Homo sapiens: one gene and its partner. Each later gene encodes a partner of the first gene's protein in a complex. Each region holds a gene or a part of one and is shown in the gene's direction. Other genes may lie near its edges. The genes, in order: ITGB6 and ITGAV.

The links.
Region 2: the proteins of ITGB6 (region 1) and ITGAV are in contact, whole or in part, in a crystal structure (PDB 9CZA), measured with the Homo sapiens proteins. Residues at the interface, in NP_000879.2 of Homo sapiens: Ser183, Pro184, Phe185, Lys187, Thr188, Thr189, Pro190, Ile236, Asp237, Thr238, Pro239, Asp273, Ser274, His275, Phe276, Gly277, Met278, Asp279, Lys281, Leu282, Ala283, Gly284, Val286, Pro288, Glu308, Thr311, Ile312, Gly313, Gln314, Ile316; in NP_002201.2 of Homo sapiens: Tyr48, Phe51, Lys72, Trp123, Leu141, His143, Gln150, Glu151, Arg152, Pro154, Asp178, Ala179, Phe184, Gln186, Phe189, Pro204, Tyr208, Trp209, Asp249, Tyr251, Tyr254, Pro274, Arg275, Arg278, Thr279, Met302, Ala303, Tyr305, Phe308, Pro328.

The regions. Positions count from the first base shown.
Region 1 is NC_000002.12:160,197,008-160,204,451, reverse strand, and holds the start of ITGB6 (integrin beta-6 isoform a precursor), read left to right. Parts: upstream 1-4,179; 5' UTR 4,180-4,388; coding exon 4,389-4,449; intron 4,450-5,193; coding exon 5,194-5,273; intron 5,274-7,444. UniProt on the Homo sapiens protein: Integrin alpha-V:beta-6 (ITGAV:ITGB6) is a receptor for fibronectin and cytotactin. It recognizes the sequence R-G-D in its ligands. Internalization of integrin alpha-V/beta-6 via clathrin-mediated endocytosis promotes carcinoma cell invasion.
Region 2 is NC_000002.12:186,676,892-186,681,539, forward strand, and holds the end of ITGAV (integrin alpha-V isoform 1 preproprotein), read left to right. Parts: coding exon 1-44; intron 45-305; coding exon 306-401; 3' UTR 402-4,010; downstream 4,011-4,648.

The DNA.
Region 1 (7,444 bases):
ACTCAATATCCATGAAGTACCTGCTTTGTAACTGGTGAAATACTAGACAATGAAGACTTAAAATTCACCCATATTCTCAATATAAACATTAATTGACTACTTACAAAGTGCCAGGCATTGTGTTACTTGCTAGGAATAGAAAGATTCCTGAGACACAGTCGCTGTCTGATACATAGCAAGAATTGAATAAATATTTGTTGAGTAAAGGCAACTATTTTGACAATTACAAGCAGAGCAAAAATGGCTATTCTGGGGAATGTCCACAGGAGGGGAGGCCTAGAGAAACCAAAAAGTGTTTCCTGCAGACACTAATGTTTACACTGAGACCTGGAGGGCAAGCTGAATTAGCCAAGTGAGAGGCATGAGAGGCAACCCAAGGCCTGCAGGAAGAACAAATGGTTTGTGTGAAGGCCTGAAAATTAGGGAGGGTGTGCACTGGAGGGGCAGCCATGGGGGACAGAGAATAAATCAATCAGTGTGATTATGATTCTAGGACTGAGATGGAAGTCTTTATGTGGGATGGCACAAGTCCATTTAAATACATGGTCAAATTGTGGTTTTAGAGTTCTAGGACCTTGTTGCTGCCTGCATCTGGTTGTCAGAGGGACATGAGGATGATCTAGAAGGGGTATGTACCACTTCCACTCGTATTCTGTTGGCAAGAGCTGGTTGTTGGGATTTTCTTAGCTGCAAAACAGGCCAGGAGAGGTAGTCTAACTGTGTTCTCAGGAAGGAGAGATTGTTGGTGGCAGCTAGAACCATGGAGAGTTTCCAGGGATTGGCATATCCAGAGCTGGGCAGCCACCCCGATCCAGCTCCTCTAGAGTGCCTGCTAGCGGCTGCCAGGGAGGTCTATGGGCAGACAGGCAACTCAAGACCTGGGGAAACCTCTGGAGCCCAGGGCAGCACTTGTCAGTCCAAGGCAGTTTTGTAGGATGTAAGATCTTTTCTTCCAAAGTGAGGTTTGAAAGTTGCATGTTCAGTCTCCAGACAAAGGTGGATTTTGTGTGGGAAATTGTCAAGAACTATGAAGGGCCTGGGCTTTTACCTGACTTGCAAGCTGACAAGTTAGCTTGTCATGGATTTGTGGGTACTGATGGAGACATGCGATGCCTGCATCACAGAAAAAGAACTTTTTAATTATTTTTTTTTTTTAAGAACTTTTTAATTCACAGCAATTGCAGTGGTCAGAGTGTCAGCACATTCTTTCACAGTTCCCCAATACCATTTCCCACAAGATGACACAAAAGAAAGAGGTGACTCCTGCACATGTAGTAAGATGTGTTATAAGAGAAGAACTTTGAGTTTAGGGAAACTGAACCTTTTATAATGGGCAGTAAACAGGCCTACTCTTTGTTCTGCAGGTTGACACTGTCTCTATCTTCCAAAGCTGTAAGCAATTTTTCCTTTTCCCTAAAGAGGGACACTGTCTGTATTTTCAAAGGCCGTTCACTTTATAAACATCCTGGAAAAGAGAGTCTAGAAAAAAGGCAGCCAGGTCCTCTGCTTGTAAGATGTGCAGAAATGTGAGAGACACTTGAATTTGTCTTCCAACAAAGACAGGTTCCTCTTTAGCAAGATGAAGTGTTCTTTAGATAGAAGCTTCCTTTACTAAATCCTTCTCCTCTTGATCTACAGATATCTAGAGGCCCCAGGGCTCAGTCCTCAGAGCTCTTCCCTATATACATTCGCTTCCTGGAGGGATCTCATTCAGCCACATATCTCTGAACACCATCAGCCTCATATCTTTAAACCCATGCTGATAATCCCAAATTTACAGTTTGCTCTTTGACATTGCCCACATTTCCAGACCTAGATATCAAACCTGCCTATGTGGCATCTTCACTTGGTTATCTTCTAGCCATCTCAAACTTACCATGTTCTTGATCCTCATCCTCCACATGAAACCTGATTCTTCCTCAATGTAATCCCTCTCAGTAAAATGTATCACTCAGCCAGTACAATGTATCTATGCCAGACAGAAACCTCTTTCTTTCATGTTCACATCCAATCTATCAGCACAGTCCAGTTTCAAAATAGATCTTGAATCTGATCACCCCCTCCTCCTGCACCACAAACATCCTAGTCCCAGCCACGATTATCTCTGTTCTTGACAGAGACATGCATTCCTCTCTTGCCCCATTCACCTTCCAATCTTGCCGCATACATTTTCACTTCCTCAGCAGCCAGTGTGGTTCTTCTAAAATGTAAATTAAATAGTATTATTTCTCTACTTTCAACTTTCCAGTGATACACAAGGTATAGAATAAAATTCAAGGTCAAGACTACATATGATCTGACCTCTGCCCTCAAATCTGATTACCCTCTCTCTCTCCCTTCTTGTATTCCACTTGCCCTTGAAAACACCTGCCATTGGGCTGTCTCAGGCCTTCATAGTTAGCTGTGTTGTCAAAGTCATCTAGGGCTCTCTCAGATGCCAGTTGGTCAGGGAAACCCTCCCTGACTATTCTAAAGAAAATCACACACTCCCTTGCCCCTCTTTCCTTTTACCCAGACTTATGATTCATAGCCCTGGGCACTGCCTGATTTTAGAAGTCTATCTCCCTGCACTGCCCTCCAGCCTAGAATATATGCTGCATGGATCAAAAACTTGGTTGTGTTCACTGATGTAGCCTCTGCTTCAAAAATAATATTTGACAGAAAGTAAATGCCCAAGAAGTACTTGTTGAATGAATGAATAATGAATGAATAATAGTTAATACTGGATTTTTAAAATGACAATAACAGAGACACAAACAATTTGTGGCTCGATCTTTCTTCTTCAAGTTAAATCAACTAATTTTATATAAATTTTCTCTCAAAATGCATATCTTCCAATTCTTCAATAATTCTGGATTGTTACCGCAAAATTCTTGCCATGTTTTTCCAGCTTCTTGGATATGATGGAGTTCAAAATTGAACATAACATAGGCTTCTGAGAAAAGCCTAGGTAGTCTATAATTAGTTTCTCTCTTTCTTTGGTTTTTTTTTTTTAATTATTTTATTTTAGTTTTTATTTTTGTGGGTATATAGTCGGTGTATATATTTATGGGATACATGAGATGTTTTGGTACAGGCATGCAATGTGTAATAAACACCTCATGGAAAGTGGGGTATCCATCCCCTCAAGCATTTCTCCTTTGTGTTACAAACAACCCATTTATAGTCTTTTAGTTATTTTTAAATGTAGAATTAAATTATTATTGACCATAGTCCGTTTCCCTCTGTTTACAGGTTTCACATGCTTACCCAGGAATGCTCCTTGAAAAGATAATCTCCTCAGACATAAGCCTGGCCACAGAAAAGTCTCTCTAAGGTCAGCAGTTTCTAGAGTGACGAAGTGAGAATTCGATTCTTATCTGTTCACAGACTCTACAAATCTCAAAACACCTTCCTGAAGAACACCCTGGGGGAAAAATACAAAAAACCTCATGGATTTAGCCATAGATCATATATATTTTGAATTGTCACTCTTTCACTCAACAAATAAATATCTCCTATGTGCCAAATCATGAGCTAGAGGTTGGAACAGCACATTGCATAGAGAACTTGGTCCCTAGCCTGAGGGATTCAGAATCTTGGGCACCATCATTTCTGTTTTCATCATTGTTGTCATCAGTGTCTTTTGAGACATTCTTATTTTGATCTCCTTTGATTTTTATATATTATGATTATTTCCAATATAATTTTAAAATAAGAATTTTATACTTATGGAAAAATATATTTCATCTAATTTGAAAAAATAAGGAAACAGTGCTTTGCTTTCCCTAGCCTTCCTTCTCATTTACTGTAAGATAATAATTTTTCTTTTTCAGGGTTCGTTTCAATTTTTTGCAAAGGATTTAGCAATGAAACACTAAAATCTCAGGCATTTTCATTAAGCTCATTTTTTACTTTCCTCATATATAGCCTATATGCTTTATTTAATCTTTATTCTTTACATTAAATTAAAATTATTTTTAAAATGACTATATTTCTATTGCTGTTGTGACTTTTCATTGATCAATATTTCACTAAAGATATTAACTTTCTCTAGGATGCAGAGAGACTCATAGAACTTACACCAAAATTTCTACTGAATGAATTTCCCCACCTTCTTGGTGATTGTACACCTGCCTTCCTTATAAGGAGAACAAGGAAGTAAATCATGTTGAAGTTGCTTTTAAACACAGCTTTTCTGCTTTACCTGTCCAGGTAGCCTCTGTTTTCATTTCAGTCTTAATGAAAACTTTCTAACTTATATCTCAAGTTTCTTTTCAAAGCAGTGTAAGTAGTATTTAAAATGTTATACTTCAAGAAAGAAAGACTTTAACGATATTCAGCGTTGGTCTTGTAACGCTGAAGGTAATTCATTTTTTAATCGGTCTGCACAGCAAGAACTGAAACGAATGGGGATTGAACTGCTTTGCCTGTTCTTTCTATTTCTAGGAAGGAATGATCACGTACAAGGTAAGACCTGCGTTCTCTGATATATTACTTTCGTGGTATGCTTGACAAACCTGTCATTTGGTTCAGAAACTAGATCTGAAGTCATGTTTTATTTGATCTGTTCCATTGCTCTTTTGTGACTGAGTGAACACTTTAACAAATTACAGACAAACACCGGGCAGTTCCCACAGTGAATGCTCTAGGCTTAAGGTAAATAAATACAAAGGTTGCACAGGCATTTTAATGAGGAGAATTAAATAACATTACTGCCCAATGGAACTTAGTGCCAGTATGATAACCATTTTTGAAACTTTTCTATTTTATTCTACCACAAGATCTTCCACTTAGGAGTAATAATCTTGAAAGAGAAAGAGGATTTATTTCAAAAACAGAAATAACTTGTTTAAGAAAGAAGCATTTTTTAATGGTTGCAAGTAATTTTTAAAAATTAAAGTGGCACACATTGGCTAAGAATAATAAATAGGATAATCCTATATTTGTGAACTTTCACATTTTAAGAAAAAAGAGCATGATAATTTTGGCTTATAAGACATACATAATTTTTAATATACATACACATATTTTACATGTGATAGATGTAAAATACAAACTTTTATGTGAATTGCTAACATTTCGAGGACTGATTTTGGATACTAAACTAAACTTTGATGTTGTTTTGTTCAAGTAATGTAAGAGCCATCAGTCTCATAAATGGAATGACTGAAAGTGTACTTAATCCCTGCATCTTGCTGGGTCTAAACCTAGGTGGCTGTGCCCTGGGAGGTGCAGAAACCTGTGAAGACTGCCTGCTTATTGGACCTCAGTGTGCCTGGTGTGCTCAGGAGGTAAAATAAATGACCTCAATGTGTTTTTAAAACCTGTCTGCAGTTAAATTCATGTTAATTTCCTCAGTGATATTTCTGATAGTGACTTGCTTTTTTGTGGAGTTGTATAAGTAAAACAAATCAGGAAAGGAGAAGGTGAGCATTGGTAGATCAAAATGGCATTCATGTGATTACTTTCAAAAACAATTTGTAGAAGGAGTGGATGTCAAATAATTCGGAAAAAAATTTTAACTTGGGATTTTTTTATTTTACCTGGTTCCTTCTTTTATTGTAAAGCCATTTCTACAGGTTACATGTAAAATATGGAGGCTGTCTGGATAATCAGAGTTCATGGAGATGATATTTTCTAAAGTTAAACATACATTTGATGTTCATATTATAGTTGTATTCCCTCTGGGTACCAGGATCCATTCTGAACTACTGCTAGATTCTAAGGGATGTGTTTTAAGTTTGGGGCAAATATTACTGGTCAGATATTATCCAGTTCCTTTAAAAATGGCATTTTCATAAACTCAGTGACTCTGTACCACACCAGTGACAAAGTGCCAAATAGGAACTCCTTATCTGGTCAAACCGAAAACTACATGAAAGCAGTATGAAGATGATTGGGGACTATGTACCAAGCCATCCTAAGACACTAGAGAATGATGTCTAACTGATTCATGGTAAGGAAGAGAGGCATTAGCTTTCTGAATTTTAAAACAAGTCTCTATGCACTGGATCTCATAAAGATAATCTAAACATAAATCAAATCATACGAATACCAAGTGCAGCAAGAGCTGAGTAGCATGCTCAAAGAGCAACAAACCTCGACACCAAACTCAGAACTGGGTTCTACCTGTGGAAACCCAAACTCCGAGTTCAGTGTGTATCCATGAAGTGTGGCCTCACAGACAAGAGAGCACAGACACAGCTCAGTCCCTTACTACGGCCTTGACCAACGCGGCCACAAAAAAAATTCAAGAGAATTATGCTTTTTTTTAGTTCCTGTATCAAAGCAGGATTGAGAATATACAAGAAGGGAAAAAATCACATGTTTTTTGGATATTGACTTCTTGAAGAAGTATTAGTTTCATGCCAGAGAGATACAACAACAAATCAGCCTAGAATTTTCATTTAAATGCATTTTTCAGCATTTACTTAAGAGAGTTTCCTAAGTTGCTGCTGATAACTTTACTTGTGTATAATACTTGGTAGCCAAATTGTTGTCAAATTGTAAAACCAAATTATTCTAAGAGGCCACTCTAATATTAGAAGTAGTTATGAGGATGCCAGTCGAGGCAGTTGGAGCAAAAAGTAAATTAGGCTTCTGCTTAGGGCAGATAGAAAATAGGTCATGTGGTTAACACCACCTCTGATCTTCTGGCAAAGGCTATGAATAGAGGTGATAGCAATGACACTGTGTTGAGAAGGATTCTGAAGCCTTGGCCAGCCACTGTTTCCCTTGGTTACATCATGGGAAGTTACAGTTTGCCATGCCTGGCCTAGAGCTTCAGACACGCACAGGCCTACTGATAGATAACAAATTGTATTCTCAAAATCAATTTCAGAAGAAATCTAACTTTCCTAGTTGATGAAAACAGCAAGAGTGGCTTGGAGTTCTAAGAGGCAAGGAAAATAGTATGAGCATTGGTTTTGTTTTCTCTAAGCATGAAAGTCAATGGGCAACAAGTTCCCCTTTGCATAGTGTCATGCCCACTCTAAAGCAGCCACGCCTATCAGGTAAGACAGGTATTTAATCTATTAGCTCCATCTCCCTGTTTTGGGTGTTTCAGAATTTGAACGGCCACATCTCTGCTGGGAAAGACTACATCTCACTGCCCCTCTGCTATCCTTGTGGGAAACTCCTGTGTCCCACGCAGAAAAGCAGACTTTTTTTTTTTGAGACGGAGTCTTGCTCTGTCGCCCAGGCTAGAGTGCAGTGGCATGATCTGGGCTCACTGCAAGCTCTGCCTCCCGGGTTCACACCGTTCTCCTGCCTCAGCCTCCCAAGTAGCTGGGACTACAGGCACCAGCAAAAAGCAGACTTTTAACCCATCTTTTTCACTTTTCTTCCTCACTTTCAAATCTTGGAGAAAGTTATAAAGGATCTTGAACTAGGATACTTCAAGACTCTGGGTTTAAGTCCACAAGAGGTCAATTTAGGTGAAGTAATGCTGCAATATAAGGGT
Region 2 (4,648 bases), about 26 Mb from region 1:
CAGGATTGTTGCTACTGGCTGTTTTGGTATTTGTAATGTACAGGGTAAGTAACGGACTTAGAAAGAAGGAGAGAGGGAAAGCAGAAGAAAAGGGAAAGGGAAGAAGGAAAAGAAGAATGAAAAGTAAGGGAAGGAAGAAAGGGACTGTAATGATGATACTTGATGAGCATTACTTATTATATGAGGGAAGATAAATTTTATGAAATACAATTTAAATGTTCTTAGTGGTAATATAGTCACCCAAAAAATACTTTTCGTATTCTACACTGATGTGACAGTAATAATGGTTTTTCTTCAACTGACAGATGGGCTTTTTTAAACGGGTCCGGCCACCTCAAGAAGAACAAGAAAGGGAGCAGCTTCAACCTCATGAAAATGGTGAAGGAAACTCAGAAACTTAACTGCAGTTTTTAAGTTATGCTACATCTTGACCCACTAGAATTAGCAACTTTATTATAGATTTAAACTTTCTTCATGAGGAGTAAAAATCCAAGGCTTTACTGCTGATAGTGCTAATTGGCATTAACCACAAAATGAGAATTATATTTGTCAACCTTCTCCTTATAAATAAGTTCAGACATACATTTAATAACATAGGGTGACTTGTGTTTTTAGGTATTTAAATAATAAAATTTCAAGGGATAGTTTTTATTCAATGTATATAAGACAGGTAGTGCCTGATTTACTACTTTATATAAAATAGTACCTCCTTCAGTTACTGTTTCTGATTTAATGTACGGAACTTTATTTGTTGTTGTTGTTGTTGTTGTTGTTGTTGTTTTAAAGCAGTCCAAATTTGGACCTTAGCAATCATGTCTTTTGTATAGGTACTTAATGTTAATACATATTACACTACAGTTTACTTTTCAGAATACTAAAGACTTTATAACTGCATGAACTTGGATTTTTTTAATCACTCATATGGTAGAATTTTATAAACACATACATGATACCATCCAAATTCTTGCTTTTAATAACAAAGGTACAATATTTTGTTTTAGTATGAAAATCTGGTAGATCCTATTACACTTCTGTTTATATTAAATCCACAATATTTTATTACATTTTTAACTTGTATAAATTTTAGGTCAAATCCTTCAAGCCAACCTATACTAAAAATTAGTTCCATAATCACAAATGGCTCTTTTGTGTAATTGTTTAATTTCACCTGAATATCATAATGCTTAAAGCCATATGGAGTTGGAAATTATTTCCAAAGCATATTTATTCCATTGTTTTAGTCTGGCTATTTACAGTATAAAAAAAGCATTTTTATTAAAATACTGTGTAGTTCTTTGAGATAGTTGCTTATGCATATAGTAAGTATTACATTCTTAGAGTAGAGCAGAGTTTTTAGTTAGTATTAATTTATTTTCCTCCATTCATGTACTTTTCCTTATATTTCCAAAACTGTTACTGAGAATGGGTCAAGATCAGTGAGAAATCTTTACAGTTGACAGGAACCTGGACCCCTTACCCCAACTTTATGAGTAATGCTTGGAATAAAAACTCTTAAGGCAACTCACTGATTTACTTCTAGCAATAGCATGATGTTACAGGAATATTACCTCTGTTTAAGCAAGGTAATGTGTAAAATCAGTCTCGGCTGTCAGAATAACTTCTAAAAGGTATTTTTATAAGCAGTTCAAGTTACTGAAAACCTTTTAAACCTTTCTGAAGTTCGTTAGTATAAATTACTTTTCTAGGATTATTAATAAAAGCCACATAGGTGGCAAGTTGTAGTTTTATATGGCTCTGTAGAGTGGTGAACCTTCTAGAGGAATATATGATTTATTCACAGTTCCTCAAGGCCTGGGGATGATGATCAGTTATACCTATTTTTGTGCAATTACATCATGTTGTACATTAGAAATGGAGAGTTTAATAGCTCTTTAACTGCTGTCCTCATTAGGTAATGATAAATATTTCCCTTAAATAATTGACTATTTTGCTGTGTTTTAAAAATGATTGAAATTTATCTTGCCATATCTCATAATTTCATGCACAAGTTGACTGAGCTAATCTTGAGAATATATTCGTAAAATAGGAGCACATTTAGTTGAGGTATACAAGGTAGGACTCTAGACAAAACCTTCTATTTTAGCTTTAGTGAATTTCAAAAGTAATGGGTCTTGGAGTATAGATTTTTATTAGTAGCTTGAAAGAGCTTAATCATATGCAGTAAGTATTTTTATTACCAATAAATTTAAAATTTTTTAAGAAAAATATTTTTATCCTAGGGCCAAGTGTTGCCTGCCACCAATCAGTAAGTTAGTCTATAACAAATTTTACCCTAACAGTTTTACCACCTAGTAACAGTCATTTCTGAAAATATGTTGGATAGAAAGTCACTCTTTGGCAAAAGTGTTAGAATTTGCTTTTGTGCCATCTATTCCTTTTATGGCATCTATCTTGAAAGTAATCTTGTATTGGAGATTGAAAGATGCTGTAATTTAGAAATTAACATGATATCTTAAATTACCTTTATGAAATATAGTTTTGTATAATAGCATAGATTTTCCTTCAAAAAATGAACATTTATATATCTACAAAAATATGGAGAAGAGTAATTTGAAAGCCTACTTTCTGAAGAAAATGGTGGGATTTTTTTTTATCATGATTAAATATCAAAAAATTGCCCTATGAAAACTTTAAATCTCTAAAACATTTGAAATACTACCATATTTGTGATTTATTGAGAATAAAAATCCATTTTGAAATGTAAAATTTTTATGATCTGATTCAGTTTTAAGAAAACATGAATGAACTAGAAGATATTAAAAACATTTGACATTGGTAAGAAATATTGATACTGATATTGATTTTTATATAGGTATTTATTTCAGAATTGATATTTTGAGAAAAATACATGTGAGTCATTTTTTCTGTTTCTCTTTTCTCTTAACGATTATCACTGTAATTCTGAATCTGAAAGGTAAAACAATTAGTCAAAATATTATTGCCATCATTCTACCTGTGTTATGAAACTACTTATTCATAGTTAATTCTCATTAACACTTACATTTCCATAAAGAAAACTCAAGTATTAATAAAAGAGACTTTACTGGCTTAAGAGGGCTGTGAAAGATTTTTGATAGTGAATCATGACCCTAAGGGAGAGATTTGTGTGATAAAAGTATTGTATATAATAGATCAGCGATTTTTGTAAGGCAAACAGAATTTGTAAGTTGGCAGATCTTCCTAAGTTGCAAAATGTAATGATGAGCTTGGTGGAGAAGAATGAGTCGTTCTTGGAATACCTATGTGCAGCCACTACCCATCTCAATGTCACCTTGTTTGCATTCTTGGATAGCTTGTATATGTAGTAGTTTGATGAATAATTTAAAGAAAAACACCTAAAATTTGAAAAATGATTGTAGGATCAAAAAAGGCAGATGAAATTACTTAATACTCAGTGTTTTGGAGAGTATTCCTTTTAGTTTGTTGGTTGGCTGGTTTGAACGATAGAAATATGCAGCATGCAATATATGCTTATATTTCATTTTAATTTCTGATATATAATGAACTTCTTGGGAGAGGTACTGAATCTTTGATGTTTTTTGTCATTGTTCTCAAGTGCAATATAACAATGTAACCAAATCTAGATAATTTCAAAGTTGTCATTAATTTAGTAAGCCTAATATAAACAAATATTTGTATTATTTTTGTTAGCAGGAAAGAGTGATTAAGTGAGGTTATTTACCCCTAAATGGTCCATTCTGCATTGTATTTCAGGCTGGAAATGAATTATTCTTTACCAGTTTTGAAACACTTTGAAATATCCTAAGGTAACTTGGAAGCTGTGTAGTATATCAAATTAATTTGCTACCTAATAACATAGAAAGTAAATATCTTTGTGGTCACCCACATTGGGTGAGACAGAAAATGAATCTGTTCTAAAATTTGTAATTTGCTAACTTGATTTGAGTTAGTGAAAACTGGTACAGTGTTCTGCTTGATTTACAACATGTAACTTGTGACTGTACAATAAACATAAGCATATGGTACCACTTTTGTGTATGGGGTTTATCCTTTCTGTGACGTGTTTTTGTTTTTTGATTACATGAGCTAGCAATAATGCACTAAAAGGATGACCTCAGAGGTAACTTTCTGTAAAACTTCAAATCTTGAATGTCAGTTATTTGATGAAAAGAAACACAAAAAGAGCAAAATGTACCACATTAAAATTCATCCTTAGAAAGGCAAATATGTATTTGCCTGAAATATAAGAATTATTTTATTTCTAAACAAACATTTCTAAATTCATTATGCTAACCTTTATTATTTTTACATTATCAGATTCCTTTTAAAATGCACATTTACATCTTTTATAATTTTTAATTATAGTGTATATATGTCATTGCATATATGCAGTTGCAATATACATATGCAATTCTAGTATAAAAATACCTATTTTTATAAATGAAAAGTACCAAGAAGAAAATTAAGTGTTGAGATGCTTGGGAAATTATACTGAAGTAGCATAATACACCACCGTAAATTCCTATGGAAATAAGATAGAGTATTGCCAGCATCCACAAGCCCCCTTCTGTCTCTTTCTAATCATATCTCACCCTGCCCTGCAAAAGTAACCACTGTCCTTACTTCTAACACTATATGCTTAGTTAGATGTGATATTTCCCCTGGA